4 linked regions of the Homo sapiens genome follow. The main gene of each other region encodes a partner of the protein of the gene in region 2 in a complex. Each region holds a gene or a part of one and is shown on either strand. Other genes may lie near its edges. The genes, in order: LRRC23, DYDC1, NME5 and DNAJB13.

Region 1 (8,582 bases), on a different chromosome or scaffold from region 2:
GCCCAGATCTTCTCTATGGACATGATGGCTGGGATCTCCTCGGGTGGAAGGGAAGGAAGGAGAAAGATAAGAGGCTTAGAGGGGTGGAGCCTGAGATCAATGGGCGGGGCGGGAGGCTGGGAGGGATGGGAAAGAGGTTACTGCAGTGGGTGGGGGGTGGGTAGGGAGGCGCTGGCTGCAGTCTAGGGCTGTAGAAGGGATTCCCCCTCCCCCCTGGGAAGAGGAGAAGGTCAATGCAGTGAGGAAGGGGAGGTCACTGCAGTGGGGGGCGGGGTAAGATCAAATGATGAGATGGGAGAACACTGCAGTGAGGAGGGGAGGGGCACGACAGTGGTTCCCGCGCCTCTTTGCAGCTTGGCCAGCCGGTGGGGTTCCCCCAGATCTCCTCAGAGCGGAATGGCTGCCAGGCTTGCATTTCTCCTGGGAGCCAAGAAGAGGATGGGCTGCCTGGGCCTCTCTTCCAGAGCCCCCATACCTCCCCAACTTAACACCCCAGCTGCCTGAACACTGCCCCTTCCCCAAGGTCCCACTCTCTCCCAAACGTGTATCCCTCCTCTTCCCGCGAAAGGCGCATGCAATACAGGTGTCGGGGAAGAGGGTCCTGAGAAAGGCCCTGCAGTCCCTGGGGGTTGCAGCGGGAAGTGAAGAGGATAAGAGCCGGTGGGGAGTGGAGGCGAGCTGGGCCTGTCCTCCCCTCTGCGCCTCGACAGATCCCCACTTCTTCCATCTCTCCCCCGTGCAGCAGAGGGGAGGAAGCGCGAACGGAGAGGGGCGCCGTGGGGAAGAGCAGGAGAGAGGGGAGTCCAAGGGAAGTCTGGGGGAGGTGAGGAACGGTGAGAGAAGACATTTCCCCAAATGCAAACCAAAAGGGACGCTCTAGGATAAAAATGCACCGCCCGGAGAGGCTCCCAACTTAGAAACAAATAGAACCGTAGATGAGGGCGAGCACCGGGAGAGAGGCAGGCAAGGGTGGAGAGGCGCAGTTAGAGATAGGCGCGCAGAGGGCCAGAAAGCGAAGGCAGCGGGCGGGGAAGGCCAGGGAGGGAAGGCGCCCTGGGCGCGGGCGGCGGAGCAGGTGCGCAGCTGCACCGGGCCAGAGATGCGGAGAGGTGCGCAGCGGCACCGGGTAAAGGAGGCAGGGGCGCCGCGGCGAAGGGAGGGGGCCACAGGGGCTCTGGGCCTGGCGGGGGCTTCACCTCGGGACTGCAGACTCAGACGGTGGTAGTGGCGGTGGCGGTGGCGGTGGCGACGGCGGCGCTGAGAGAGCGGGAGTGGCAGTGGCGGCGGCGGCTGCGGCTCCCGGGCGGCGGGCGGAGGAGGCGCCTATAGGGCCGCGCGGGCGCATGTGACCCGGAGCCCCCGATGAGTCAGGAGCTGCCGGCGGAGGCGCACGTACGAGCGCGGGTGGGGGACCGACGAGGGTGGAGTGGGGAAGGGAGGAGGATGGGGGAAGGGTGGGGGCACCCACGACCTGGCCCCAGCGCACACAAGCGCTCATACCCACGGCCCGACCCACTCGACAGTAACAGGCAGAGCCGCACCCCTGTAGCCCGGGTACGAAGGCCCACACTGCCAGTGAAGCCCAAGACAGCCTCAATGTCTCACAAACCCGGTCAGACACAGGAGCATCACTCTGTTTCTTTATTGGAAATCCGAACACCCCAGCCGCCTTCGCAAGTCTCTCCAACCACTCCTACCAGCACCCCGCGGCCCACGCGGTCTTGGCTCTCACCCACGCCTGCCCGAGGGCGGCCCCCGGCCTAGGCTCCAGGCAACGCTCAGGCCTAGGCACCCCATTCTGCACCCCACACTGCCCAGAGGACCGGCACAGAGCAGATCCTGGGCCTCAGGTTGTGATGAATTTCCAGCTTTGGGGCAAAAACAGGCATCCTCTGTTCTCTGTCATACATGTGGTGGCTGCCCCTGGGAGTCTGATCAGGTCTGAAGGCCAGCGTCTTTGATCTCCTGGAGGTAGAAGACAGAAGTAAATAGGGACCAGGCGCTGTGGCTCACCCCTGTAATCCCAGCACTTTGGAAGGCGGAGGCGGGCAGATCACGAGGTCAGGAGATCCAGACCATCCTGGCTAACGTGGTGAAACCCCGTTTCTACTAAAAATACAAAAATTAGCCAGGCGCGGTTGCATGCGCCTGTAGTCCCAGCTACTCGGGAGGCTGAGGCAGGAGAATTGCTTGAACCCAGGAGGTGGAAGTTGCAGTGAGCTGAGATTGTGCCACTGCACTCCAGCCTGGAGACTAAGCAAGACTACCTCGCAAAAAAAAAAAAAAAAAAAAAAAAAAAACAAACAGAGGTAAATAAAGCCTCTCCCCTATCTAAAGTGCCTGGCGGCCACCCTCATCTCTTCAGTCTCTTTTTGCCTCACTCTGCCCTCTTTTCTTCCCCCATCTCTGTGTCCTGTTTTTAGCTTCAGATTTTTTGTGCTGGATCTTCCTCTCCTGCTTCTCTCCTAGGTCCAGCTGCATACACCACCAACTTTCCCCTGCAGCCCCTACCATGCACCCACACCTGTCCTTTCCTAGCCGACTTCACTCTGTGTCAGGTATGGCTGCCCCACCCCCCACCAACTCCTCTGCCTGCCACCCCAATTCTTTTCACTTACTCTTCTGGCCTCCTAAGTCTTTCTCAGCTGGTCCCAGGCCCCTTGGGTCCCTTTTCCTCTCCCTGACTCCTAACCCTCCTCTCTTTAAGGGTCCTGCTTGTCTGATGCTTTCCTCTCCCACCTCCTTCTGCAGCAGCTTCCCCTCTTGCCTCTTCCCCTACCTGCCCAGCCCTTGGCCTCCTCCCACTGCCTCCCTGCAGGCTTCCTTACTATCTTTAGAGGCTAGAACTGCTGCTAGATCAATGACTGTTCGGGTTCCAGGTCACGCTGGGGCTCAGGCTCCTGCTCCTTTTCTTCCTTCAGCCTCTGTCGAATCACATCAGCCTCAGCCCGTTCCTCCTCCTCATAGAATTCCTTGTCCAGGCGTTCAAGGTATGGCATCTGCACCAGGGCCTCCTGGCGGTAGCTGGTTTCGTCCGTGCATGGGTTATCAAGCAGCACCAACGCTCGCAGCTTGGGCAGGTCTCGAAGCTTGGCCAGCTCCCCCAGGTTGGCCACCATGTTGCCCCTGCCAGTGTGGTCAGGAGGGGTTCATGCAGGAATAATGGGCTTTGGTTGCCAGTTGCTAGGAATGGGGCCTCTGGGGGACTCTCGGGGTTCCAGTGTCCCTAGAAACACTGTGAGGACTGGCCTGCCAAGCCTTGCCAGATTTACTGCAGAGGTGCTGTGTGACCCCGCTCTGGTCCTGCTTCTGCCCTTCAAGGAATCCCTAAGTGCCATATTCTACTCTGTAATACATTCATGTGTTCTTTTGGTGCAGCAAAGCTAGGCCACAACCCTGTCTTGTAGCTGGGGAGGAGAGGGCAAATTTTCCTCACAGGGAGAGACATTTTCTGTGATCACACCTAAATGGAGGGTAGAAGGTAGGACCCAGCCTGGGCAACATAGCGAGACCCCATCTGTACAAAAGCTAAAAATAAAAAAATTAGCTGGGCGTGATGGCATACACCTGTAGTCCTTGCTACTTAGCTGAGGAGGAGGGATTGCTTGACCCCAGGAGTTTGAGATTACAGTGAGCCGAGATCGAGCCACTGCACTCCACCCTGTAGGACCTAGGTCAGTGGACAAGGAACTGGGATCTAAGCTGGAGTTTAGGGTGGTGGATGCTCGGTTCGTGCTCTCCACAAAGAGAACCTAAGGCTATGGATGGGTTGGAGCCTCCCAACCTGAAGAATAAACTTCATCTCCTAATGTGCCTCATTATATGATACTCTGTTTTTATTTTATTTTTATTGAGACAGGGTCTCACTATGTCACCCCGGTTGGGGGTGCAGTGGCATGATCATAGCTCACTGCAGCCTTGAATTCCTGGGCTCAAGTGATCCTCTCACCTTAGCTTCCTAAGTACCTCCAGGCATGTGCCACCACACCTGGCTAATGTTTAAATTTTTTGTAGAGACTGGGTCTCACTATGTTGCCCAGGTTTGTCTTGAACGCCTGGCCTCAAGCAGTCCTCTTGCCTTGGCCCCCCCAAAGTGCTGGGATTACAGGCGTGAGCCACCATGCCTGGAATTTTATTTATTTTCATGTTCTGGCTTTAAGCTTTTATGAAATCTATTTAAGTGTTTCAGCCTGATCTCATGGTCGTGCTGAGCCTCATGCAGTGTTTCTCACCAGGAGGGCTACAGGAACTTTGTACTGGACTCTGCCATACATTGTTGGATGCTTAGCATCTCTGGCCCCAGAGGCACCTGCCAATCATTGAGACACCCTCACCCCCCTCCACACACACACCCGACTTACTCTCAAAACATCCCCATTTAATAGCCACTCAGGAAGGGTCCATCATGCCTGTCTAGATCATTAACAGGAAGATGGCACAGATACACACCCCACCAGATCCGTGTGGCAGAGTTCATGAATAAGAGAATGCCCAGGGGGTCAGGATGAGAGTTGGGGCTTCCAGATGCAACCACCTCTCCCTACTTGGAGATGCTCTTTCCATTACCAGCTCAAGAATCTGGTCTTGTTGACTAAGGAAAGAGGCAGTTTCCTTACATGTTTGCTGAAATAAACACACATAAAGTCCTCCATCCGACAAGAGTTGCTGATCTTCAGTGCCTTTCTACCAAAAGATTTTCTTACAAATGTCCTTCTCTCCTCAAATCTGAGCACATCTTGTGTTTTTTTAATCAGTAAAAAGGTCATCCCTTACAGGTGGGGCTCAGGAGAAGAGAGGCAGGAAATGGGAAGGTGAATTGGGACCGAGGAAATGGAGAAGGGCAGTGGAAACTTATATAGGATAGGGTGAGGAAAAAAGAGTTGGAGCCAGACTGTGAGCCCCTTAGGAACAGGAATCACCTCTGATTCCTTTCTTTCTTTTAGAGACAGCTCACTCTGTCACCCAGGCTGGAGTGCAGTGGCACAATCATGGCTCACTGCAACCTTGAACTCCTGGGCTCAAGTGATCCTCCAACCTCAGCCTCCTGAGTAGCTGAAACCACAGGTGTGCACCACCAGGCTCAGTTAATTTTTATTTTTAATTTAATATTTTAATTTTTATTTAATATTTTATTTTTGTTTTGTTTTTGAGGCAGGGTCTGGCTCTGTCACCCAGGCTGGAGTGCAGCGGCTTTATCTCAGCTCACTGCAAACTCCACCTCGAGGCTCCAGCGATCCTCCCGCCTAAGTCTCCTGAGTAGCTGGGATTACAGGTGCCTGTCACCATGCCTGGCTAATTTTTGTATTTTTGGTAGAGATGGGATTTTGCCATGTTGCCCAGACTGGTCTTGAACTCCTAGGCTCCAACGATCTGCCCACTTCGGCTTCCCAAAGTGCTAGAACTACAGGTGTGAGCCACCATGCCGGGCCATTATTTTCACTTCTGTAGAAACATGGTCTCACTAGGTTGCCCAGGCTGGTCCTGAACTCCTGGCCTCAAGTGATCCTTCCTCCTAAAGTGCTGGGAGTACAGGCATGAACCACCATGCCCAGCCTCTGATTGCTTTAAATGTCCCCAAAACACAGCACAAGGCCTGGCACATAGCACATTCTCAATAATTGTGGATTGAATGAATAAAAATTCAGGGGTCACAAGCTATAAGGGATTTAGTGTTGCAACTCAGTGCAGAAGAAAGGAAGGAAAGCCGGGCTTTCCTTGAGAATCCAGCTGTGGGCTAGGACTGGGGGATTGGGCCAGGGAAGAACACAGACTCAAAAGCTGCACCTGGTCAGGGGTAGGGGCAAGGTGGGGCTTGGAGAGGGTGCATACCTCAGGTTGAGGTACTGCAATGATTTCATTTCTCTGGAGAAGCCACTCAGGGTGTCAATCTGGTTGTCTCGAAGATGCAAGGTGGTGAGATTGCTCAGATCCTCCAAGCCTTCCACCTTCTTCAGCATGTTTTGGGCCTAGACCCCCAGGGCACAGTGGATTGATTGAGAGGGAGCAGGGATAGGGAAGAAAGAGAAGTCAGAATGAGATAAAGCAAAAGAGGAAATCCAAGAGGTAGAGAGGGAGGAGTGGAAGAAAGGAGTGGGGGTGAGTAGAGATCAGTATAGAAAGTAAAGAAGTTCAGGAGAAGCTGCCATCCCAGAGAAAGGTCAGCAGTAACCCTCTACCATTCGCCCCATCAAAGCCACTTGGGATGGAGGAGATGCTTCAACCCACCCCTACCCGGCCCAGGAGCCCCCAGGCCACCACTGAGGATTGGCATCAGCACCATCCCAGAATAACGAAGCTTAAGAGTCTAAAAGACTAAATATTTCAGTGGCTTCCTGTGGAGTTATTATATATATAATATATAATATATTATATAATATATAAAATATATATTATATATTATATATTATATACTATTATATATAATATTTATATATTATATATAATATACTATTATATATAATATTTATATATTATATAAAATATATTATATATAATATACTATTATATATATTTATATATTATATATATTATATATAATATATACTATTATATATATTTATGTATTATATATAATTATATATAATATATTATATATAATTATATATAATATATAATTATATATTATATCTAATTATATATATTATATATAATTATATATTATATATAATATATAATTATATATTATATATTTTATATATAATATATAATATATAATATATAATTATATATTATATATTATATGTAATTATATATTATATATAATATATAATTATATAATATATAATATATATTTATATATAATATATAATTATATAATATATAATATATATATCGGTTTTCATCCACAGTCCCTAGCTTATAACCCCCATAATAGCCCTTCTTGCAGTCTTTTGTTATAAAGTTGGGTGTGCTGGGCCTCAGGGGCAGGTCTCAGGAACTTCTCCAGCCGTCTTTTCACCTGCTCCAAGAGAAAGCGCTAATCTTTCCCCCCACTCCCTCTTTCTGACTGTGATTCTTTCTTTTTTTTTTTTTGAAACAGAGTCTAGCTCTGTTGCCCAGGCTGGAGTGCAGTGGCGCAATCTCGGCTCACTGCAAGCCCCGCCTCCTGGGTTCACGCCATTCTCCTGCCTCAGCCTCCCGAGTAGCTGGGACTACAGGTGCCTGCCACCACACGCAGCTAATTTTTTTTTTTTGTATTTTTAGTAGAGACGGGGTTTCACCGTGTTTTTCTTTGGTTTTTTTTTTTTTTTTTTTTTTTTGAGATGGAGTCTTGCTCTGTCTCCCAGGCTGGATTGCAGTGGCGTGATCTCAGCTCACTGCAAACTCTGCCTTCTGGGTTCAAGCCATTCTGCTGCCTCAGCCTCCCTAGTAGCTGGGATTACAGGCGCATGTCAGCACACTGGGCTAATTTTTGTATTTTTAGTAGAGACAGAGTTTCGCCATGTTGGCCAGGCTGGTTTCGAACTCCGGACCTCAGGTGATCCGCCCGCCTCAGCCTCCCAAAGTGCTGGGATTACAGACATGAGCCACCGCGCCCGGCCTGATTGTGGTTCTTAAGACCCTCCCCAGCGACAGCCTCCCCAGTTTCCTGGGGGAAGGAATACTAAGATCATGAAGCTTCCATGAAAAGCCAAGAGGACTGGGTCCAGAGAGCTTCTGGGTAGCTGAACACGTGAAAGCTTTTGGAGGGTGATGCATCTGGGAAGGGCATGGAGCACTGCACCCATATCCCCATACTTCGCCCTAAGCATCTCTTCATCTGTATCCTTTGCCCTTGCAATAAACTAATAAAAACCACTCTAGAAAATTAATTAAATCCAGAGAAGAGGTCATGGGAACCAGCTTCATGTTGAAGCTGGTGTGTCAGAAGTTCTGGAGGCTTGGACTTGCAACTGGTGTATGTGGGCGGTGTAGGGGTCACTCTTGGGAACCGAGCCCTCAATCTGTGGGATTTGATGCCATCCCCAGGTAGACAGTGAATCGAATTAGAGATCACCCAGCTGGTGTCTACTACTTGGTGTATGGGGAGAAACCCCCACACCTTTGGTCCCGGAAGTCGTATGTTGATGATTGTTGTGGTGGTAGTGTAAGAGCTGAAGAAAAACCCAGTCTGAGAGGAGGGTTTTCCTAAAACATTTCCACAGACTGATGTTTGTACCTCAATTATGGTCCATTTTGCTACTACCTGTATCAAGGTAAATTATCTCTGTATTATCCACACATTATATATTATCAGCCCTGCTAGGTGGCTGTGTATCTCCACAGCATCTGGAACCAACTATGGTCTTGATAATAATACCAGTTATTATCATAATGATGAAGTTAGTAGCTGAGCCTACTAGAAAGCAGGCATCCTGACCCCCAGGACAGTGCCCTCTTCCCTGCACCACCCTCTGACCCAGTGAGCTACCAGGTAGAGGTTCTTCAGCTTAGGAAGATTGATTCCCAGGGTGCTTTCCAGCTGGTTCCCCCGAAGCTCCACTGTGTGCAGGCTGATCAACTTCTCGGGGTCCAGACCTGTCACCATGTGGATGCTGTTCCCTGGGGAGGAGGGTTTCAAGAGCTCAAAGGGCCACTCCAAA
Region 2 (5,825 bases):
ACATGTACATCGTAAATATGTACAGCTATTTATATCAGTAAAAATTAAAAATTAAAGAAATTTTGAAAAAGATTCACGGATCTAAACTGAAAGAGAAAATACAGGAACATATCAAGAAGGCAGTGATCAAAATAAAGGAATTTAAAGTATTTTTAATCAAAGTGACCTGATAGCTACATTAAAGTGCTTCAAAGTCCATAGGAAGGATTGGTCTCTATTTTATGGCTCCAGAGAGCCACACTCATGTTATTTTACTATCTCCAGACATCATCAGCTTGTGTGACCACTGCCAGAATAACTTTAGTAATTCCTATTTCTATAGGCTTATCATCCCTCACCATAGCATAGGTAGTCCCCTGCAAAGTACCACTCCCTCGCCCATTGCTCAGAGATGAGTCCACTCATGTGCTTTCCCTTGGCCTTCTTATGGCTGCAGACTCGCAATGTAAACTATCATGTGCAAAGGGAAGTTTGCTAGAAGGATTCTGGGTTGAAGGAAGGGTTTAACACATAAACTGTGAAGGACTCTGGTATCACTGGGCCTTTCAGACTTTGGGAGCAAGAGAATCAGATGCTACCAGGGCTCTCCCCTCTGCTGCTCCCTGGTTATTAGTTTCGCTCTTTCACTATGGGCTGCTTTGCTGCACATGGGTAGGGAACATGGGCCTTAACGGCTTCTGAGGCTTAGAATGTTGTGGCTTCTACCATCTAAGAGGAATGGATGCCTTGTTTTAGTTTCAGTTAAGAAAAGAATCTTGGAGAAGGATTCTGACTGGCTTAGTTTGTGTCAAATATCCATCTCTGTGGCAGGGGAGCATAGTCCTATAAGAATATGGATGTTCCCCATATAGCCTTGTGGATGCTGGATAAGAAGTTACCAGGAAAATGGAGTGGTCTTGGGAAAACAGTGCTGTTTATGTCCCTATCATTAGGGTGACCATATGTATGATCAAGAAATCACTGGTCTTCTAGCAGCCAAAACGAATCAGCTCAGGGTCAGTTAGGCCACCCTGCTGCTTTAGAATGAAAAGGTAGATGGCATAGCAAGGTTTGGCTGACTAGAAGAATGTTTCACATTCAGAAAGAGGCCTCCCTTATTGGGCAGTATATTCCTACTGCAGTGCTCAGAGTATTAAAGAGGGCATTGCTCAGGTCCTGTGGGAGGACTTGTGCATTGGGCCAGATTAGTTCCTGTAGAAGTGTTTACTTCTTTCTCGGTATGTGCAAAACTCTACTTAAGTGTGGTTTTCTCCTTAAAAATCTCTTGTTCTAAGGTTCTATTATAATTTTTATTTTGTCACTTTTTATATTGGCAGATAATTTGGCTTCAGTTTGACTGTTTCAGTCCATTTCATTTTTAAAAAACTTTTATTTAATTATATATAAAACATGGTTGCCTTCTATTAGTATAGAGTATTAAATAAGACTGTGATCTGCAGTTTTGTAATGTGTAATCAGATCATTCTCTTTCAGAGTGACAGCATTTTTGCTTTAAATTCATCATAGCATTGTGTAAAAGTAAAAATGCCAAAAATTAAACATGAAATCAAAATGGAGTATATTCAAAGTATTTTCTTAATTTTTATATATTATAGGAGATGAGAATGAATATGGAAAATCTAGTTAGGAATGAAGATATTCTACATTCAGAGGTGAGAAGAAAAAGTCATTCTATGTTATGTGAAATGAATTGAGTATCCTAGAATGTAAAGCTTAATTTTGATGCATAAGTAGCTAAATTTTTAGCAAGTATATTATCAAAACTGATAGTCCATGTATATTTTCCGGTGATAACAAGTCACAAATAATGTGCTTTGAAGCAAAATCTCACAATAGGTAAAAATTGGACATTCAGTTTGTGTTTGGATTTTTAAAAACTAGGCTCTCTTGAGATATTGAAGCTATTTACCACATAATTACTTACAATTATTTTAAATTTCTGCAGGTATTTTTAAAAAAAGTTCTAGTATTTATTACCAGAATTGTAGCTTTGCATTCTAGGATACTCAATTCATTACCAGAATTCTCTTGTCATTAACAGAAATTGGTTAATTCCACTAATTAATAATGTTGAATTTTAATGTTATAAATCAGAAAATTTTTAATCAAAATTGAAAGAAAAGTAATGTATTAATTTTGAAATCATTTAAAAGTAAAAATCAATTTTTTGATTGTAGGAAGCAACACTAGACTCAGGCAAAACACTAGCTGAAATCAGCGATCGTTATGGAGCACCTAACTTGAGCAGAGTGGAAGAACTTGATGAACCAATGTTTTCTGATGTCAGTATCAGTGTGTTTTGTGAAAAAACTCGTTTTTGTTTTTGTTTTTGATTTTTTTTACTTAGGTAAAGCCTAGGGAAAATGAGGCTAGGCCAGGATTGGTTGGCAAATAGGCCTTTTGCTTCAGAGAAAGAAAATCAGTTCCCTGGTTGCGGATTATATTCCTAATTGGCATTCTGCCCTTTTGTGAAGTGTGTCACTGGCTTATCTATATCTCCGTATCTGTGACTTCAAAACCTCTTCAAAATATGTTTTAAAATCATTTTGTGAAATATATAATCTTTAAATTTGGTGTGGGGGGCACGATTTTTGTTCTCAGTAGCAAACCCTGGAACCAAATTAATGCCTTAATGAGAATGCATGCTTCTCCAGTATGTAAGTACATTTGTTTATTTAAGAAACATGCCACATCTTCCATATGCCAGGCACTGTGCCTGATGCTGTGGTGAATAAGGCAGATGGCTTTGACCTTATGGAGTTTATTGTCAGGGGAGAAACAGACAATTAGATGAACATTTAATAGTCATGGTTAGTGGGACCACATAATTTATTGTCCAAACCAGTATGCTTTTGAGAATGAGAGCCGGATCAGCAGATGTAAGCCAGGACTGTCCTGGAAGAAGGGTACATTTTGGTCACTTTAATTGGTGTACACGGACAAGGGGGGACAGCCAGCACAGTTGAGGAACCTCAGTCAGGGAAGGAAGCTAATGATTTGCTACTCACTGGTGGCATGGGAGGCTGAGGATAGTGCTCCAGGCAGAGAGCATGGAAGGTGTGAAGACCCAGATAGGAGAGCGTGTAGAGGGAGTGAGGCAGGGAGGGGTGAGAGCTGAGGCCAGGGAGAAAGCAGGGGCCAGACCATGAAAGCACTTGTCATTTCTGTTCAGAGGCTTAGATTTTATCCTGAAGGCAGTGGAGACTCATATGATGAGAGCTACATTTTGCAAAGACCATCTGGTAACAGTGTGGGGAAGAAAATGGAGAAGTAGGTGTCAGGAGATGGCTTAGGAGGTAGTAATCTAGGGGACAAGATGTCGATGGCCTGAAGTAAATGTTGTTTTCAAGAGCTGTTCAGAAAATGGAGCTGCACAGACTCAGTGCTAATTGTTTAAAGTTTTATTAAAGGTCAGCTATGATTTGGCACTATGCAGGGAGCTAGAAAATGCCAATGAACAAAATGGATTGGGCTTCTGCCCTTGGGGGCCGTGGGCCAATGGGGAAGCTTCTTTGAGGGACAGAGTAGGGAGAGACCTGACCTGGGCTGGACAAGTCTTCCTCAGGAGGTGAAGTTCAAGGAATTAGCCTGAGATGAGCCCAGAGGAAAGAGACAGCAAAATGCTTTCAAGGGACTGAAGTCATCCAGTATTAATGGCTAACGTCCATGGAGCTAGGAAAATGGTGTGATTTTAAGCTGGAGAGGTGGATAAAGGCAGAGCACACTGGGTCTTGTATGTTGCCTTAGGGATTTTGGACTTAAGTGCAGTAGGAGTTATTGAAAGGACTTAAAGATTCAATCTGTGTTTTTATAAGGTGGAGAGAGGATTGGTGTGGAGCAGGAGTGGAAAAAGGGAGACCACTTAGGAAGTTATTGCACTGATCCAGATGTAAGATGACTAGGGTTAGACAGCAGAGATGGAGGGAACTGAGTGGATTTAAGATTGGCTTACAGGATCAGTGCGGGGCAGGGTCAGGATGAAGCCTAAATGTCTTCCTTGGGCTACTGAGTTAAGAGTGTTAACATTTGATGAGTTGATGAACATAAGAGGAAGCAGGTTTTTAAAAAATGATGGCTTCAGTTGCAGAGATGTTGACTCTCAGGTGGCTCTGAGATATGCAGGTGAAAACAGCCAAGAACAGTTGATGTTAGGAAGGGGCCCAGGCCGGAGATATAAATTCAGCAGTCATGGGCATATGTGCTGAATGAAGCAAGGGGATTGAGTAAGGTACCTAGGAGAGAGTGCAGTGTGTGAAGGCCTGGGGGCTCAGGGAGGAACCATTAGCAATTCTAACATTGAAGGGATGGCCACAGGAAGAGGAGCCTACAAGAAGGATGAGAATGCATAGTAAGAGAAGTAGAAGAAAGGATGGAACAATAACTACTTTGAGAACATAATTTATGGTTATATTCAATTTGAGTATCATTTGAAATCATCTGAAACTCCCAAAAAGTTTCATTCATGTAGTCACATAGAAGTTACCTAAAGTTTATTTCTTTGGCTTGTGCCTTTTCACAGTTCTAATTGTATTAAGGAATATTTACTTTTTGTTTTGCTTTTAGATTGCATTAAACATTGATCAAGATTTGTAGGACCAACCAACCTAAGAGCAATAAATGTTTTTGTTTGTTTCAAATTTCAAACCATGAGGTTCCCAATTTGTATTTTTTTCCTTCAAACTTGAACTCCCCTTTTTTTTTCCTCTAAGGACTGCTTATGAATGGGCTTCAAGAGTAGCCTCAAATTATTATTTTGGATCCTTCAGTTCAACTGGTTATTTATACATTTCCATTGGGAAAATAGGAGAGTTTGCTGAAGCAACCAAAAGAGGCAAATGGGAGGTGAGCTGAACTAATATGTGCGTCTATGCAAGAGCAAGACTGCCTGAGAGGACAGTTGCTGGCTGGGTGCAGTGGCTCACACCTGTAATCCAGCGATTTGGGAGGCCAAGGCAGGTGGATCACTTGAGGTCAGGAGTTTGAGACCAGTGTGGCCAACATGGTGAAACCCCGTCTCTACTAAAAATACAAAAGAAAATTAGCCGGGCGTGGTGGTGGGCATCTGTAATCCCAGCTACTTAGGAGGCTGAGGCAGGAGAATCACTGGAACCCAGGAAGCAGAGGTTGCAGTGAGCCAAGATCATACCACTGCACTGCAGCCTGGGTGACAAGAGTGAGACTCCGTCTCAAGAAAAAAAAAAGAAAAAAAGAAAAGAAAGTTGCTGGTCCGTGAGAAGTGAGTGAGGTGGCCATTGTGTAGGGCTCAGGAGGGTGTGCAACATGCTCTAGATGTGGTGTCTCCTCCTGGGTGTGAACTGCAGAGCTCTCCCCAGTTTGCTGGGAGCTGATGCTTCATAGAACCACTTAAGCCACACTTATATGATGGTGTTTAAGGGGGAAGAAGTGTTTCATCACTGTCCTGGTGGGGGAGTTTCCTCCAGCTTAGCTTGTTCCTCCACAGCCAGGAACAGATATGAGGACTTTCCCTTCCTCACCTTTCTGCCCAGCTGGGCGTCCGGATTCCTGTCTTCCTCTTTGGGGTTTATAAAGTCTAGGGATATTGCAGGATGTGTTCACATAGAGTGAATTGAATGGGATGAAACAAAGTTCTGGGGTGCAAAGAAGTATCATGTCTTCTGGCTCAATCAGTGGGCTCAAATATTGGGGCAACTGTTGGTGAGAAGATCTGACTGAATACAGGCCACACACTCCTGGCCCCTTTGAAGTTTCAGTTCTATCCTTAGACTCTGCAGAGAACCTTACTTCCTTTACAAAATTCTTCCAAATCTGTGATGTGAGTCCTTTCTATTCTTAAGGACATAGGT
Region 3 (8,674 bases), on a different chromosome or scaffold from region 2:
AGCTAAGCAAAAGAAGAAAAATAAAATATTTCTACCATCCAGAGATTATAGATAAAAACACTTGAGTGGGTATCCTTCTACATGTTATTCTATACACATTTATTTATTCATTTTTTAATCTAAATGAGAACACATGGCTGGGCACAATGGCTCATGCCTATAAACCTAACACTTTGGGAGGGCGAAGCAGGAGGATTGCTTGAGCCCAGGAGTTTGAGACCAGCCTGGGCAACATAGCGGGACCCTATCTTATTAAAACAAACAAAAAAAACCAAAACCAAACCAAAACCAAATGGGCGTACACTGTGCATATTGCTTTGTAACATACTTTTTTTCAGCTAACAATCTTTCTGTTTTCACATTTTCTTACATTATACTTTCTTTTCTCTTTTTTTTTTTTTTTTTTTTTGAGACAGAGTCTCGCTCTGTCACCCAGGCTGGAGGGCAGTGGTGCGATCTCGGCTCACTGCAAGCTCCGCCCCCTGGGTTCACGCCATTCTCCTGCCTCAGCCTCCCGAGTAGCTGGGAATACAGGCGCCGCCACTACGCCCGGCTAATTGTTTGTATATTTAGTAGAGACGGGGTTTCACCGTGTTAGCCAGGATGGTCTCGATCTCCTGACCTCGTGATCCACCCGCCTCGGCCTCCCAAAGTGCTGGGATTAGAGGCGTGAGCCACCAAGACCGGCCGTGATTGTGGTTTTTGCCATTGTTTTTTAATGACAAAAACCATAATTGCTTTTGCACCAGCCTAATAGTTATCCAAGTGATTAGTTTAAGATCATCCCCTGGTTCTGGCCATTTTCATTGTACCAAAAAATTACTTATATACTTACACCTTTCTATTTTTTATTTTTTACATCAAACAGGTAATGTGATGATGCTGTAACAAGGTTTGAGGGAAGCATATCTGACACATGAGCATGAAACCAAATCACCATGCTTATGGACTACAAAAGGACCTAAGCCTTTTAAACTAGACTGTCTCAACTGTGCATTAATTATGTATTTAGATATAGGATATGTGCTTGGGAAAATGTATAACTAAACTTTATGTCTTACTTCTCAAACTTAAGAAAAACAAAAACATCTAGCAACATCTTACATGAGTTTTCCATTACCTAGTGTTACATCATTGTTAAAATCATACTCTAAGCCTATATTTTACCTTAATGTTATCTGCTTCATAGAATAGTTATTCCTTTAACACTTATTTTTAAGAAATAAATTTATTTTACTTGTAGTTACTTAAACCCTAGAAATAATTTTTTCAAACAGTAGAAGTACAGCCTTTTATAATAAGATAGTTCATGATTTGTTCTTTCGAGGATTTTTTTTTTAATAAGGTTCTTCTACAATTGGATGGTGACAAAGTTTGGGTTTGTTAGGATTATTTTTCAGCAGCCAATCAGCTAGCCAAATCTATGGGAAAAAAAAAAACAACCTAAGTTAAGAAACAGTTACATATTTCCTTTCAATATATACTATATCAATTGGAAACTTAAACAGTTTTCAAAATCACTTTAAGAAAATGACCATTAAAAATGGAAACATTTGGATTTACATTATGCAAGATTGTCAAGAATAGATCCAAACTGGCAAGAAAGAAGTAAAACTATCTCTTTTCACAGATGGCATAAACCTACATGTGGAAAACCCTAAGGAATTTACAAGGAAGCCACTACAGCTAATAAATTCAGCGAAGATGTAGGTTACAATACACAAAAATCAACTGTATTTCTATACATCAGCAATGACAGTCCAAAAAAAAATTTTAAATCACTTTCATTTACAGTAGCATAAAGACAAATAAAATGCCAAGGGATAAATTTAACCCAAGAAGCGAAAGGCTTATACATTAAGAACTGTAGAACATTGCTGAAAGAAATTAAAGAATACCTAAATAAATGAGAAGACATTATTTTTCATGGATACGGAGATTTGATATTGTTAAGATGTCAATACTTCCCAAAGCAATCTACAGATTCAGTGCAGCTCTTGCCAAATGTCCAACAAGTTTTTTTGCAGAAATGGAAAGCCAATCCTCAAATTCATATGAAATTGCAAGGGGCTCTGAGGAGCCAAAACAATCATGAAAAAGAACAAAGTTGGAGGACTGATTTGTACTCTCAATTTCAAAACCTTCTACAAAGCTACAGTAGTCAGCACAGTGTGGTAATGACATCCTTATGCCAGACATGCAGACCAATAGAATGGACCTGAGAGTCCAGTGCTCTCTTCGGCAGCACATATACCAAAACTGGAATGATACAGAGAGATTATTAGCATGGCTCCTGTGCAAGGATGATGCACAATTTATTAAGCATTTCATATTTTAAAAAAAGAATGAGAATCCAGGAATAAACCCACGCATCTATGGTCAACAAATTTTTGACAATGGTACCAAGCCCATTGGTACCACTGGACTTGGAGAAAGAACAGTCTCTTCAACAGATGGTACTAGGACAATTGGATTTCCACATGCAAATGAATAAAGTTGGACCCCTATACCACACCATATACAAAAATGAACTCACAATGGACCAATGACCTAAATATAAGAGCTTAAACAATAAACATCTTAAAAGAGGCCAGTGACTCACACCTGTGATCCCAATACTTTTGGAGGCCGAGGTAGGAAGATCACTTGAGACCAGGAGTTCAAGACCAGCCTGGGCAACATAGGGAGACCCCATCTCTACAAAAAATTTTAAAAATTAGCTGGGTGTGGTAGTGTGCTCCTGTGGTCCCAGCTACTTGGCAGCCTGGTGCACAAGAATCACTTGAACTCAGGAGGCAGAGGTTGAAGTGAGCCGAGATGGCGCCACCAGACTCCAGCATGGGGAACAAAGACCCTGTCTCAAAAAAAAAAAAAAAAAAAAAAGGAAAGAAAAAAAATCTTAAAAGAAAACATAAAACACAGGGGTAAATTTTCATGACCTTGGATTTGGATTTCACAATGGATTCTTAGACATGACATCAAAAGCACAAGAAATAAAAGAAAAAATAAATAAATTGGATTTCATCAAATGAAAAATGTTTATACATTAAAGGACATTATCAAGAAAGTGAAAAGACAACCTACAAAATGGAAGACAATATTTGCAAATCATATATCTAATAAGGGTTTAACATCTAGAAATACAAAGAACTTTAACTCAACAAAAAGACAACCCAGTTTAAAAATGGGCAAAGGACTTCAATTTGAATAGACATTTCTTCAAAGAAGGTATACAAATGGCCAAGAAGCTCATGAAAAGATGTTCAACATTAGCCATTAGGGAAATGCAGATCAAAACCACCGTGAGAAACCATTTTGTGTTATCTACTAGCATGGCTACAAAAAAAAAGAAAGATAGGTCGGGCGCGGTGGCTCACACCTGCAATCCCAGCACTTTGGGAGGCCAAGGCAGGTGGATCACCTGAGGTCAGGAGTTCGAGACCAGCCTGGCCAACATGAAGAAACCCTGTCTCTACTAAAAATACAAAAATTACCCGGGCGTGGTGGTGTTCGCCTGTAAATCCCAGCTACTCAGGAGGCTGAGGCAGGAGAATCACTTGAACCTGGGGGGCGGAGGTTGCAGTGAGCCCAGATTGCGCCTCTGCATTCCAGCCTGGGCAACAGAGTGAGACTCCGTCTCAAAAAATAATAATAATAAATAAATAAAACACAGCAAGAAAATAATAAGTAATCAATAATTATACATATCTAACATGTATATGAAATACCTTCTAGAAATGTTTATTTTAAAAAGGTTCTCAATATTTGCAGTATTTCATTTATTTACTTATTTATTTTTTGAGATGGAGTCTCGCTCTGTTGCCCAGGCTGGAGTGCAGTGGCACAATCTCGGCTCACTGCAAGCTCCGCCTCCTGGGTTCACGCCATTCTCCTGCCTCAGCCTCCCAAGTAGCTGGGACTACAGGCACCCACCACCACGCCCGGCTAATTTTTTATATTTTTAGTAGAGATGGGGTTTCACCGTGTTAGCCAGGATGGTCTTGATCTCCTGACCTAGTGATCCACCCACCTCGGCCTCCCAAAGTGCTGGGATAATAGGCGTGAGCCACTGCGCCCAGCTATATTCGCAGTATTTCAAAGACACAATGTCTTAAACGTGAAAACTACAGACAATTTATAGAAAAAAAAATTTTTTTTTTGAGATGGAGTCTTGCTCTGTCACCCAGGCTGGAGTGCAGTGGCACAATCTCGGCTCACTGCAACCTCTGCCTCTGGGTTCAAGTGATTCTCCTGCCTCAGCCTCCTGAGTAGCTGGGATTACAGGCACATGCCACCACGCCCAGCTAATTTTTGTATTTTTAGTACAGACGGGGTTTCACCATGTTAGTCAGGCTGGTCTCAAACTCCTGACCTCGGATCCGCCCGCCTTGGCCTCCCAAAGTGCTGGGATTACAGGCATGAGCCACCACGCCTGGTGACAATATTCTTAAGTGTGAATAAAAATATTTCTTACCAAAGGATCTGCTGGTTTTTGCTTACAAAGCTCTGTGAGTCCTTCAAGCAGAGTTGGCATTATATGTAAATTTAAATAGTCCTTAGCAGCTTGTCCAATTGGAATGGGCTCAACAATCACTGCAAATACAAATGTATTCTCATTGATGCAAACATAATGATTAAATACTATACAATCATTAAAAAGGTTCTTTTTAAAGAACTTTTCTCTATTTTTTTATATGTTTTTTTGAGATGGAGTCTTACTCTGTTGCCTGGGCTGGAGTGCAATGATGCAATCTCAGATCACTGCAACCTCCTCCTGGGTTCATGTGATTCTCCCACCTCAGCCTTCCGAGTAGCTGGGACTACAGGTCCGCATCACCACACCCTGCTAATTTTTGTATTTTTATTTATTTTTATTTTTTGAGACAGAGTCTCGCTTTGTTGCCCAGGCTGGAATGCAGTGGCACAATCTCAGCTCACTGCAACCTCCAACTCCTGAGTTCAAGTGATTCTCCTGCCTCAGCCTCCTAAGTAGACAGGAGTGTGCCACCATGCCTGGCTAATTTTTGTACGTTGAGTAGAGGCAGGGTTTCACCATGTCGGCCAGGCTGGTCTCAAACTCCTGATCTAAGGTAATCCTCCTGTCTCGGCCTCCCAAAGTGCTAGGATTGCGGGCATGAGCCACCATGCTCGGCCCTAATTTCTGTATTTTTAGTAGAGATGGGGTTTCACCATGTTGGCCAGGCTGGTCTTGAACTCCTAACGTCAAATAATCTGCCTGCCTCAGCCTGCCAAAGTGCTGAGATTACAGGCATGAGCCACTGCAACCAGCCTGTTTTCTTTTTCTTTTCTTTTCTTTATTTTTTTTTTTTTGAGACAGAGTTTCACTCTTGTCACCCAGGCTGGAGTGCAGCAGCACAATCTCAGTTCACTGCAACCCCGTCTCCCAGGTTGAAGCAATTCTCCTGCCTCAGCCTCCTGAGTAGAACCAGCCTCAGTTTTCAGTTGGGATGTTTCTCTTATTATTTAGACATAGGAGTTCTTTATATATTCTAGTTACAAGTTCTTTATATTATTTGGTGATATTTTTTCCCAGTCTGTTGCCTACCTATCTTTTCATATTTTTAAAAATTTAACTTCTATTTTTTTTTTTGACACAGGGTCTTGCTCCGTTGCCCAGTCTGGAGTGTGGTGGTGTGAGCACAGCTCACTGCAGCCTCGAACTCCTGGGCTGAAGCATCCTCTGGCTTCAGCCTTCCAAGTAGCTGGGCCTGCAAGTGTGTGCCACCACACCCAGCTTTTTTTTTCTTTAAGTGTTTAGAGACAGGGTGTCACTCACGCTGGTCTCAAACTCCTGGCCTCAAGCAATCCTCCCACCTCAGCCTCCTGAATAGCTGGATTTACAGGTGCAAACCACTGCTCCCAGCTCTTTTTTTTTTTTTTTTTTTTTTGAGACAGAGTCTTTCTCTGTCGCCAGGCTGGAGTGCAGTGCCGCGATCTTGGCTCACTGCAAGCTCCGCCTCCTGGGTTCACGCCATTCTCCTGCCTCAGCCTTCTGAGTAGCTGGGACTACAGGTGCCCGCCACTAATTAGTCCGGCTAATTTTTTTGTATTTTTTAGTAGAGACGGGGTTTCACCATGTTAGCCAGGATGGTCTTGATATCCTGACCTTGTGAGCCGCCTGCCTCGGCCTCCCAAAGTGCTGGGATTACAGGCATGAGCCACCGCGCCCAGCCTCTTTTCACATTCTTAATGATGTCCTTTGAAGCACAAAAGCTTTTAATTTGATTTAGTCCAATTTATCAATATTTTCTTTTATGGATCTTGCTTTTGATGTCATTTTAAGAAGTCTTTGTCCAACTCCAGTTACAAAGATTTTCTTGTTTTCTTTTAGATGTTTTTACATTGAAGTCTGTGATCCATTTTGAGTTAATTTTTGTGTATGCTATGAAACAAGGGTCTAAGTTCTTTTTGTTTTTATGTGACTATCATGCTGTCCTAGCACCATATACAGACTTTCCTCAATTTACATGGGTTACATCCCAATAAACCCATCATAAGTTGAAAGTATCAGTAAGTCAAAAACACATTTAATACACCTAGCCTATTGAACATCATAGCATAGCATAGCCTACTTTAAATGTGCTCAGAACACTTACATTAGCCTACAGTTGGGCAAAATCATCTAACACAAAGCAAATTTTATATAAATAACATTTTCTATATAATATACATATATTATGAGCTGGGCACAGTGGTTCACACTTGTAGTCCTAGCTCCTTGAGAGGCTGAGGCAGTAGGATTACCTGAAGCCATGAGTTTGAGACCATCTGGGCAACAAAGCAAGACTCTGTCTCTTAAAAAAAAAAGATATATATATATATCATTTTTGGGGGAGGATCTCTTGAGGCCAGGAGTTCAATACCAGCCTGGGCAATATGGCGAGACTGCCTTTCTACAACAAAAAAATTCAAAAAGTAGCCAGGCATGGTGGTCTATGCCTCTAGTCTCAGCTACTCAGGAGGCTAAGGTGGGAGAATGCTTGAGCCCAGGAGGTCAGGCTGTAGTGGGCACCACTGCACTTCAGCCTGGGTGACAGAGAGACACCCTGTCTCAAAAAAAAAGGAAACCAAAATAGAATGGTTGTATGGATACTCGCCATTAATGTACACAGCTGAAAGCACCATAGTAAAGTCAAAAAACTGTAACTTGAACCATGGTAAGTTGGGGACTGTATTGGCAAGACCATCCTTTTCTCACTGAATTGTCTAGGCACCTTTGTTGAAAGTGAATTGACCATAAGTGTAAAAGTTTACTTCTAGATCCTCAATTCTGTTCCAATAATCTATATGTGTATCTTTATATCACTGTCATACCGTCTTATAATTGTGGCTTTGCAGTAAGTTTCAAAATCAGATAGTGGAAGTCTTCCAACTTTGTTCTTCTTTTCTAAAATTGAATTATTTGCAATTTTGCTAAATTTTAAACTCAGCTTGTCAATGTCTACGTAAAAGTATGCATGGACTTTTAAAAGGATTACATTAAAATTTTCTTTAAATTTTTTTTTTCTTGTAGAGATGAGGTCTCACTTTGTTGCCCAGGCTGGTCTCCTACTCCTAGACTGAAGCAATCCTTCTGCCTCAGCCTCCCAAAGTGTTGAGATTACAGGAATGAGCCACTGCACCCAACCCAAAACTGTTAATTAATTTAGAAAGAATTGCCATCTTAACAATATTGAGTCTTCCAATCCATTAATATGGAATATCTATTATTTATTTTAAAATTTATCTCAGCAATGTTCTTTGTTTTTCAGTGTACAAGAATTGCACTTTCATTAAATTTATGCTTAAATATGGCCGGGCGTGGTGGCTCACACCTGTAATCCCAGCACTTTGGGAGGCCAAGGCGGGTGGATCACCTGAAGTCAGGAGTTTGAGACCAGCCTGCCCAACGTGGCGAAACCCTGTCTCTACTAAAAATACAAAAAATTAGCTGGGCGTGGTGGTGGGCGCCTGTAATCCCAGCTACTCGGGAGGCTGAAGCAGGAGAATCGCTTGAACCCAGGAGGCAGAGGTTGCAGTGAGTTGAGATCGGGCCACTGCACTCCAGCCTGGGTGACAAGAGCGAAACTCTGTCTCTAAAAAAAAAAAAAAAAAAAAAAAAAAAATTGTGCCTAAATATTATATTATTTTTAATGTCATTGTGAATGGAATTTTCCTTTTTACAGCTTTATTGAAGTATTACTCATGTACACAAAATTGCACACAATTAATGTATACAATTTTTTCTCAATATGGGCAAATGTTTTATTCATATATTATATAAAGTTCATTATGCCAATTTATCAGGTACTAATCATTAAACAAAAATTTTTTTAATTTTTTTTTTTTTTTGAGACATGGTCTTGCTCTGTTGCCCAGGCTGGAGTGCAGTGGTGCGATCTCGGTTCACTGCAACCTCTGCCTCCTGGGTTCAAGCAATTCTCCTGCCTCAGCCTCCTGAGTAGCTGGGATTACAGATGCATGCCACTATGCCAGGCTAATTTTTTTTTATTTTTAGCAGAGATGGGGTTTCACTATGTTGGCTAGTCTGGTCTCGAACTCCTGACCTCAAGTGATCTGCCCATGTCAGGCTCCCAAAGTGCTGGGATTACAGGCATGAGCCACCACCCCTGGTCCCCCAAATTTTTTTTAACTTATAAGTGTACTTAAAATT
Region 4 (8,674 bases), on a different chromosome or scaffold from region 2:
GCGCAGATCTGGTGTACAGATCCAGGCGGTGCAGATGAGCAGACGGGACCAAGTGGATGGTGATTTAGAGGGTGGAATCCACAGGGCTTAGTGACTGATGGCAGGTGGTTGTGGGAGGGGAGGCCAAGTCTAGGCCGGGGCAGGCAGGGCTCACTCTGATCTCCTCCCCGCTGCTCCTGCACTTTGCCCACTCACCTTGCCAAGAGGGATGGGGTTCACGAAGAAGAGGTTGTCATTCTCCCTGCGGAAGCGAGGGTGTAGCTTCTCCTTTACGATGAAAATGATGTCTGCTGGGATGATGTTGGGGCCCTGGGCAGGGGACGCCAAAAGGTGACAAGGACTAGTTGGCCGTGTGACCTTGGCCAAGTTCCTGCCTCTACTTGTCTCCATGTCTTCATCTGTACAATGGGGAGATGAGAGCAGGTTTTCTGGAAGGGCCTTTTCAGTTTGGCCCCCATAGCCCAGATGGATTAGAAGCCCGAGAAGCTTACCCAAATGAATCCCCCCAGAATTACTTCTGTACTGAGCATGCCCAAAATAGACACACTCAGCTGGAGGGGCGGAGAGGCTTCCTCAGACGGCAGGCAGGTGGAACACTAAGCTGGGCGTCAGGCAACTGCCCGTATGTCTCTGTCTTGCTAGTAACTCCAGGCATGACACCCCTGTCCCAAACTTCATTAAGTCACCAAAACTCTGCTGAGGTCTCTTCTGGGCGCTGGGGACAGAGGAATCAGACTGGCCCCTAACACTGACAGTGAATCCTCAGCACGCTCAAGACATGATAAAGGGAGGCCCAGAGGCTGGGGCTCAGAGGAGGCTGCCCAGAGCGGGGAACACTGGAGCTGGGTTTTGAAGCGTGTTTATTCGAAGTAGATGTTTTATTTGTATTTTGTCTGTTTGTTTTGTTTTTAGACAGGATCTCGCTCTGTTGCCCAGGCTGAAGTGCAGTGGCATGATCATACTTCACTGCAGCCTTGACCTCCTCGGCTCAAAAGATCCTCCTGCCTCAGTCTCCTGAGTATCTGGGACCACAGGCACACACTACCATGCCCAGCTAAATTTTTTATTTTTAGTAGAGACAAGGTCTCGCTATGTTGCCCAGACTGGTCTCAAACTTCTGAGCTCAAGTGATTCTCCTGCCTTGGCCTCCCAAAGTGCTGAGGCTATAAGTGTGAGCCACCAGGCCAGACCGGAGGTAGATGTTTCATAGGTGAGAAAGGGGGCAAAAAGTGCAGGCAAAGGAATGTGTCTTCCCTGGCTCTGAATGCCTCTTCTCAGGACTTAAGGATTCAGCACGCCTTGGACAATAAATTTATGTTTTTATTTAAATAGTATTTAATTTAAAATTATTATTAATAGGCCAGGCACGGTGGCTCACACCTTTAATCCCAGGCACTTTGGGAGGCCGAGGCAGGCGTATCACCTGAGGTCAGGATTTCGAGGCCAGTCTGGCCAACACGGAGAAACCCTATCTCTATAAAAATACAAAAATTAGCTGGGTGGCTGGGCGCAGTGGCTCACGCCTGTAATCCCAGCACTTTGGGAGGCCGAGACAGGTGGATCACCTGAGGTCAGGAGTTCAAGACCAGCCTGGCCAACATGGTGAAACCCCGTCTCTACTAAAAATACAAAAATTAGTCGGGTGTGGTGGTGCATGCCTGCAATCCCAGCTACTGGGGAAGCTGAGGCAGCAGAATAACTTGAACCCGGGAGGCGGAGTTTGCAGTGAGCTGAGATCGCACCACTGCCTTCCAGCCTGGGTAACAGAGCGAGACTCTGTCTCAAAAAAAAAAAAAAAAAAAAAAAAATTAGCTGGGCGTGGTGGCACATGCCTGTAGTCCCAGCTACTCAGGAGGCTGGGGCAGGATAATTGCTTGAATCCAGGAGGTGGAGGCTGCAATGAGCTGAAATCATGCCACCTCACTCCAGCCTGGGCGACAGTGAGACTCCATCTCAAAATAAAAATAAATAAATAAATAAATACATAAATAAATAAAATTATTATGATTAAATGGTTTCTGAGTAGCTCCTGTAATTGGGCTTTATTCTGAGAAGCACTGAAGAAAATCAGGAAAACACTGGAGTTCAGACTGGGATCTCCTTTCAGCTCCCATGTTCTTGCCCTGGGCAAGTCCCTTTCTTCTCTGGGCCCCCATTTCCCACTCTGTAAAATGGGGACAGTCCCTGGGCTGCCTGTTCACAGAAGCACTGTAAGGCTAAGGCTCTGTTCCTTGGAAGGAACATTAGGGATCCCATCTCACCCACTCTGCAGACTGGGCTCTCTACAGACCAAGGCTCACAGGGGCAGGAAAAAGTATTGCCTCCTTTCCCTTCCTTTCCTCCTCAGTCTTCCCACCGCCTGAGCTCAGTGACTGACCTGAGTCAGCTTCTTCCCCCCTCACCTGGTCCCCTTCCTTCTCAAAGGTGATGCGTGTGCCCTGCCTCCAACCGGGCTTCACATCAATGGTCAGGATCTTGTCCTTGATGGTGGAGGAGTACCCATCCTCGTTCAGCACCTATAGCAACATATCAGGTGTGGGGAGGTCTGCTTAGGACTTCCATGAGTACAGTCGAGATTTGCTCAGATTTTCATGAACACTCAGGTGACCTTTGCACACGTGAAAGATGCTCTATGGGATTTGTACTTGGGCTCAATCCTCTAGCAATGGGAAGAGCCTCCAGCAATGGGGAGAGCCTGCCCTGAGCCACTCCCACTCCCATCCTGTTGCCATGACAACCAAGAACTTATGATTCCAGTATGGCAGAGGATGCCATGAGACTGGGGCTGGGGGCTGAGATGCCAAGCAGTCACCATTAGTTGATCAAACACACAGCTCCAGCCCTGGCCACTAACAGATACATGGTGAAAATGTACTCCATTCCTCTCTCCAAATCCCAGAGGCCCGGCCCTGAGCCTCCAGCAAGTCTCTTAATCCCAAAGAGAGAAATGAAAGTCAACATATCTAAGCCTCCCCCAGTGCATTCCCCACTGGGGATCCTTCCACTCCCCAGTCGCATGTCCAGATGGGTTCCATCTGTGGAAAGCATGGCCGCATCGGCATCTCCTCTGCTGGGCAAAGGTGGAGGGGGCTTGCTCTTATGCCTGGCACAGGGCTGGGCCATGGGACAGGGCCAAGCCAAGGACTAGACATGAGGCACTGAGGGTCTTCCTCAACCCGTCACCTTGGGGACTATCTCCCAGCCCACCCTCCATGCCCACTGTTCTTTCTTATGCACGAGGCATGCACCCTGATGAAATCCTGGGAATATGGTCTGGTAAAGCCCAGAAGGAAGAATTCAGAAGAGACTCCTCCCATTCAGAGCCTTTCCAGTTCCCACGGGGATGGGGCTGAACTGAAAGAAAGGAAGGGAAAGAGCCTGTCCCAGTTGGGAAGGCTGCAGAGGGCACTCCTGCACTAGGAAAGAACCGGGCTAATGTCTTCAACTGTCCCTTCCGAATTTCAGATTCCGGAATTCTAACATCCTAGGTCTCTGAATCTAAGGTTCCATAATTCCATCAGAGACCATCCCTGAGTCCTCCCACCCAGGTAAGGGAGGAGGCAGCTGCTAGGCTGCAGGAGATAGGTGGCTCCCGGGAGGAGCAAGCTGAGTACTCACCCTTCTGGAGATCTTAATTTTTTTGGTGCAGCCAAAGAATAAGTCCTCCAGGGACAGGTAGAGATCCCGTTCGACTTGGGGGTCCTGCTTCTTGACCCCTCGGCCCTGGAGCCCCCCAAAGTTCAAATCTACCTCACTTCCTTCTGCATCAAAAAACTCTGCAGGAGGTAGGGAGAGGAGTAAGAGAAATTGTATCCAGAGACCCAGACATGCGCGCGCGCGCACACACACACACACACACACACACACACACACACACACACACACACAGCCTCCCTATCCAGATATGCTCCCCAACCTCTTCAGTGTCCTGTGTAACACCCAGCATCCTATAACCACCTCTCAGACTGGCCAAGCCAAGGAGCTGTCTTCAACTGCAGATGCAGTGATTATCATCCTTTGCCATTTCCCACTGCTTCACCTCCCCTTGGGACATTCCCCCCCCACCCCGCCCAACGCTTCCCCGTCTCTCTTATTCACAACTCGGATACCGTAACTCTGGCTGTCTCAGGAAAGGGAGGCACTCCCTCTGGTGGCCGCGCTCAGGAGTGCCAGAAGAGACTGCTGGTAGTCCTCGGCAGGAAGGTGAGAGCCTGCCAGTCCTCTCTACTCTTCCCCAGACTCCATAACCCTTCGCTGTCCAGCCCAGCCCAAGATTGCTAAAGACCCCAGACTCAAGTTTCTATAAAGCTGTCAGCTGAGATGGGGGAGGGAAAGGGTTGGTCCCTAACAATTTGAGAGGCCACCGGCATTCCCCAAACTCCTCTTTCCTCAATTTCTTTTGCCCCTGCCCAGCTCTGCACCCATAACCCCTCTTGCTGCCCCCATCCTTCCTCCCAGTGCAAAGACAGCCCCATCCTGGCTCTGCCCCTGATGTGCTGTGTGATCCGTGGGCTTCAGTGTCTTGGTCTGTGGGATGGGGTAATAATGCCTGACCTGCCTTCCACCATTAAGATGAAGAGCTAAAACTTGCTGAGAGCTTACTATGCGTCAGGTGCTATTTTTGGAACCTTACATTATTATTTCATTGGTCCAGGGAGCCCAAACAAAACGCTTAAGGTCCCGTAGCTAGTAAGCAGTAGAGTTGGGATCTGAACCACAGGACAATATGACTACGGAACCTGTGTCCTTAACCACTGTGCCACGCCGCATCGCTAGATGTGGAAGCCCCTCATAAGCTGTAAACTCGAGGGGCGCTATGGTTAAGAGTTTTCATATTCTGCCTCTCATGGTTAATGCCATGGAATGAACTTCACAGGCTAGAATGGTGAAATGACCTTAGGCAGGGATGGTGAGGTGACTACACTATGTCCCTCTAAGATGCGATGGGCAATCAAGAGGCCTGAATCTTCTGGTCCTCCTGTTGCATTGCTGAATTCACTTGTTCACCCAGACCTACAGTGTACCAGGCAGTAAACACCCCAATAGCCAGTCCACAGGAAGCCCAGCCCCTCAACCCTGCAGGGAGATGGGACTCAGGAACCCTTGGGGTGGAGCACTATGGCAGTATAGCTTCTGGGCACTGCCTGAGGAAGCCCAGACCCTGAGCCTGACCTTTCCCAATGAGCGATGCCCTGTAGACTCACTTGGCTCCTTTGAACTGAGACAGGTAGGGAGGCAAGGTCCACTGTATGGCATTTTTGGACTGCAAAGCCCCTTTCATTTTTTTTCTTTTTTCTTTTTTTTTTTTGAGACAGAGTCTCAATCTTGTTGCCCAGGCTGGAGTGCAATGGCGCAATCTCGGCTCACCACAACCTCCACCTCCTCGGTTCAAGCGATTCTCCTACCTCAGCCTCCTAAGTGGCTGGGATTGCAGGCATGCACCACTGTGCCTGGCTTTGTTTTTTTGTTTTTGTTTGTTTGTTTGTTTTTAGTAGAGATGGGTTTTCTCCATGGTGGTCAGGCTGGTCTTGAACTGCCGACCTCAAGTGATCCGCCGGCCTCAGCCTCCTGAAGTGCTGGGATTACAGGTGTGAGCCACCATGCCCGGCCGATTGCAAAGCCCCTTTTCATAAACATTATCTCATCTGATAATAGCCCTTGAGCCTTAATGATTATTTTGGCTATGTAATGGTTAGGAAGCTGGGGTTTCAGAGGGGTGAAGAAATTTTCCCAGGATCACACGGTTCACAAATGGCAGCGCATGGATTGGAAACAGGCCCGCTACTCGAAGCCCCTTGCTGTTTTCAGTCTCACGTGGAGCTTATAAACTCAGCTTCTTCTGGCAGACACGTGAGGGTGGCACAAGGTGGGAGCAATCTCTGAGGCAGAGGGGCTGTAACCCACATATTGGCACAGAAAAGAGAAGGAAAGAACTTATGAAGTTCAGAAAGGCTGAAGTATAGTCAGGGAGAAGGGGCAAGAGGTGTAGGAGAAAACAGGCAGTGAAAAATCTAGGCCTTATGTGGGTATAACTGGAGCCAGGAAGTCAGGTGTGAAGGTCTTTTCACTGCCTTTGCAAGATGATTCTGAGCCTCAGAAATCAACTCTTGGTCAGTTTGTCTCAGACCTGGAATCACGCACCCATCCACCTACTCAGCCATCCTTCCGCCTACCCAGCCATCCATCCGCCTACCCAGCCATCCATTCATTTACCCAGCCATCCGTCCGCCTACCCACCCACCCACCCACCATGTGCTCGTCTATTCATTCATACACCCACTCATCCATTCATCCATCTGTCCTTCCTTCATTTCATGCATCCACCCATCCACACTCACTCTTGTCAGATGCTAGGCTGGGATTTGGCTACGCTGAGATCAATCAGACCTGGAGGATCTCCCAGTCTGGTAGGGAGACAAGCATATTAGGGAAACTATAAATAGCACAAGAACTGTTTTAACTGCAAAAGAGACAAGAGGTATCTTCCCACAAATACAATATTAGCAAAAGACTGGGAAGAAACTACCCATCAATAAGACAGTAATTAAAAATAATAAATTAGACCTGGCATGGTGGCTCATGCCTATAATCCCAGCACTTTGGGAGGATGACGCAGGCGGATCACCTGAGGTCAGGAGTTCAAAACCAGCCTGGCCAGTCTTGAGTGGAAACCCCATCTCTACTCAAAATACAAAAATTAGCCAGGCATTCTGGTGCCCACCTGTAATCCCAGCTACTCGGGTGGCTGAGGCAGGAGAATCGCTTGAACCCAGGAGGCAGAGGTTGCAGTGAGCCAAGATTGTGCCACTGCACTCCAGCCTGGGCAACAGAGCAAGACTTTAATAATAATAAATTATAAAACATCCATGGTAGCCATGCTGGCACTTGGCATCTGCTCTGTCCTCCTTCTTGCATACCTTCCCTGCTAGAGAATCTGTAGAGCCAAAAGGAACATCCCCCAGACTCTCTTGCAGCTAAGGTTCTGGCTTTGAATTCTGTTCATCAGGTAGTTCCTGAGCTGCTTGGGAGGCAGGAAGAAGGCGGCAGGCATCTCTCCGTGGCTCTGTCTGGAGCTGGTGGGCACTGTTGTGGAGACACTAGGTTTTTCTGCAGCAGCCTTTGTGGGTCCACCCACGAGTTTCATGCCTGTCAGAGGCAAGTGAGGCAGCAGTTGCAGCTACATTCATGGTGTGCTCTGGAATGCAACGGTGACATTTCCTGATTCCTTCTTTGTGACTGTGGCAGAGACAGCAGCTCTCCTTGTGGGCCAGTTTAGAGGTGGTGTTCTTGGAAGATTTCCTACAGGGCCAGCTTACAGCCTTCTCACCCAGGCCTTTCAATGATTATTTCTTTATTTATGTATTTTATTTTTTTGAGACAAGGTCTCAATCTGTCACCCAGGCTGGAGTGCAGTGGCCCGATCTTGGCTCACTGCAGCCTCAACCTCCTGGGCTCAGGCGATTCTCCCACCTCAGCCTCCTGAGTAGCTGGAACTACAGATACACACCACCATTCCTGGCACATTTTTTTGTAGAGATGGGGTTTGGCTATGTTGCCCAGGTTGGCACCGAATTCCTACACTCAAGCAATCCAGCCACCTCAGCCTCCCAAAGTGCTGGGATTATAGGAGTGAGCCACCACACCTGGCCTCGGTGATTTTTTAAAGCACCTAATTCCCTGTTTTGAACCCCTTTCTGCTTCACGTGGCTAAAACAGTATTTGCTTCTGCAATGGATCCCTAATAGACATCTGTACAATGAAATCTTATGCAGATCTGTACATAGTATATAGATTTGCATGTAAGTGAATAAAGTAGATCTATATATAGTATAACATATAAGATAATCTCCAAGATATATTAAGTGAAAAAAAAAATCATTGTGTAAAATTTGGCCCTATTTCCTTAATAAAAGGCTTCTGTAAAAATAAATACAGCTCATACAAGCATGGCAAGTTTCTGGAAGGATACATAAACTGTTTACTAATAGCTGCTTCCCTAGTAGCTGCTTCTGAGGAAGAAAATGGAGGGCTCGGCCAGACACGGTGGCTCATGCCTGTAATCCCAGCACTTTGGGAGGCCGAGGTGGGCAGATCACCTGAGGTCAGGAGTTCAAGACCAGCCTGGCCAACATGGCGAAACCCTGTCTCTACTCTATGAAAAATACAAAAATTAGCTGGGCGTGGTGACTCACACCTGTAATCCCAGCACTTTGGGAGGCAGAGGTGGGCAGATCAGCTGAGGTCAGGAGTTCAAGACCAGCCTGGCAGACATGGTGAAACCACGTCTCTACTAAAAAATATAAAATTATTAGCTGGGTGTGGTGGTGGGTGCCTGTAATCCCAGCTACTCAGGAGGCTGAGGCAGGGAGAACTGCTTGAACCCCGGAGGCGGAGGTTGCAGTGAGCAGAGATCATGCCACTGCACTCCAGCCTGGGTGACAGAACAGGACTCCATCTAAAAAATAAAAATAAAAAAGAAAGAAAGAAAAAGAAAATGGAGGGCTGGAATGTATTTCTTTTTCAATGAATTCTGTTTTACTTTTTCTTTTGCAATGTGTTTTATATATATTTATTAAAGTAAAAATAGGCCGGGCACGGTGGCTCATGCCTGTAATCCTAGCACTTTGGGAGGCCAAGGCCTTAGGCAGATTGCCTGAGCTCAGGAGTTCGAAAC

Evidence for each region.
Region 1: DYDC1 (region 2) and LRRC23 share a complex: the UniProt entries of both Homo sapiens proteins name them as parts of the axonemal radial spoke complex.
Region 3: DYDC1 (region 2) and NME5 share a complex: the UniProt entries of both Homo sapiens proteins name them as parts of the axonemal radial spoke complex.
Region 4: DYDC1 (region 2) and DNAJB13 share a complex: the UniProt entries of both Homo sapiens proteins name them as parts of the axonemal radial spoke complex.

What each region holds. Positions count from the first base shown.
Region 1 is NC_000012.12:6,907,274-6,915,855, reverse strand, and holds the end of LRRC23 (leucine-rich repeat-containing protein 23), read right to left. Parts: intron 8,542-8,582; coding exon 8,411-8,541; intron 5,967-8,410; coding exon 5,830-5,966; intron 3,127-5,829; coding exon 2,853-3,126; 3' UTR 2,829-2,852; intron 1,966-2,828; coding exon of another isoform or gene 1,785-1,965; 3' UTR 1,627-1,784; downstream 1-1,626. Other genes in the region: ENO2 (gamma-enolase), read right to left, coding at 1-23. UniProt on the Homo sapiens protein: Essential for sperm motility and male fertility. Plays an important role in the proper assembly of the third radial spoke (RS3) head and the bridge structure between RS2 and RS3 in the sperm flagella.
Region 2 is NC_000010.11:80,334,924-80,340,748, reverse strand, and holds the end of DYDC1 (DPY30 domain-containing protein 1), read left to right. Parts: intron 1-1,595; coding exon 1,596-1,652; intron 1,653-2,177; coding exon 2,178-2,282; coding exon of another isoform or gene 2,283-2,333; exon of another isoform or gene 2,334-4,563; coding exon 4,564-4,593; 3' UTR 4,594-4,644; downstream 4,645-5,825. UniProt on the Homo sapiens protein: Functions as part of axonemal radial spoke complexes that play an important part in the motility of sperm and cilia. Plays a crucial role during acrosome biogenesis.
Region 3 is NC_000005.10:138,114,344-138,123,017, forward strand, and holds the end of NME5 (nucleoside diphosphate kinase homolog 5), read right to left. Parts: intron 4,594-8,674; coding exon 4,475-4,593; intron 2,260-4,474; coding exon of another isoform or gene 1,978-2,259; exon of another isoform or gene 1,422-1,977; coding exon 1,338-1,421; 3' UTR 832-1,337; downstream 1-831. UniProt on the Homo sapiens protein: Functions as part of axonemal radial spoke complexes that play an important part in the motility of sperm and cilia. Does not seem to have nucleoside diphosphate kinase (NDPK) activity.
Region 4 is NC_000011.10:73,959,980-73,968,653, reverse strand, and holds part of DNAJB13 (dnaJ homolog subfamily B member 13), read right to left. Parts: intron 7,147-8,674; coding exon of another isoform or gene 6,926-7,146; exon of another isoform or gene 6,791-6,925; intron 3,777-6,790; coding exon 3,619-3,776; intron 3,610-3,618; exon of another isoform or gene 3,318-3,609; coding exon of another isoform or gene 3,249-3,317; intron 2,517-3,248; coding exon 2,403-2,516; intron 716-2,402; coding exon of another isoform or gene 683-715; exon of another isoform or gene 310-682; coding exon 196-309; intron 1-195. UniProt on the Homo sapiens protein: Functions as part of axonemal radial spoke complexes that play an important part in the motility of sperm and cilia.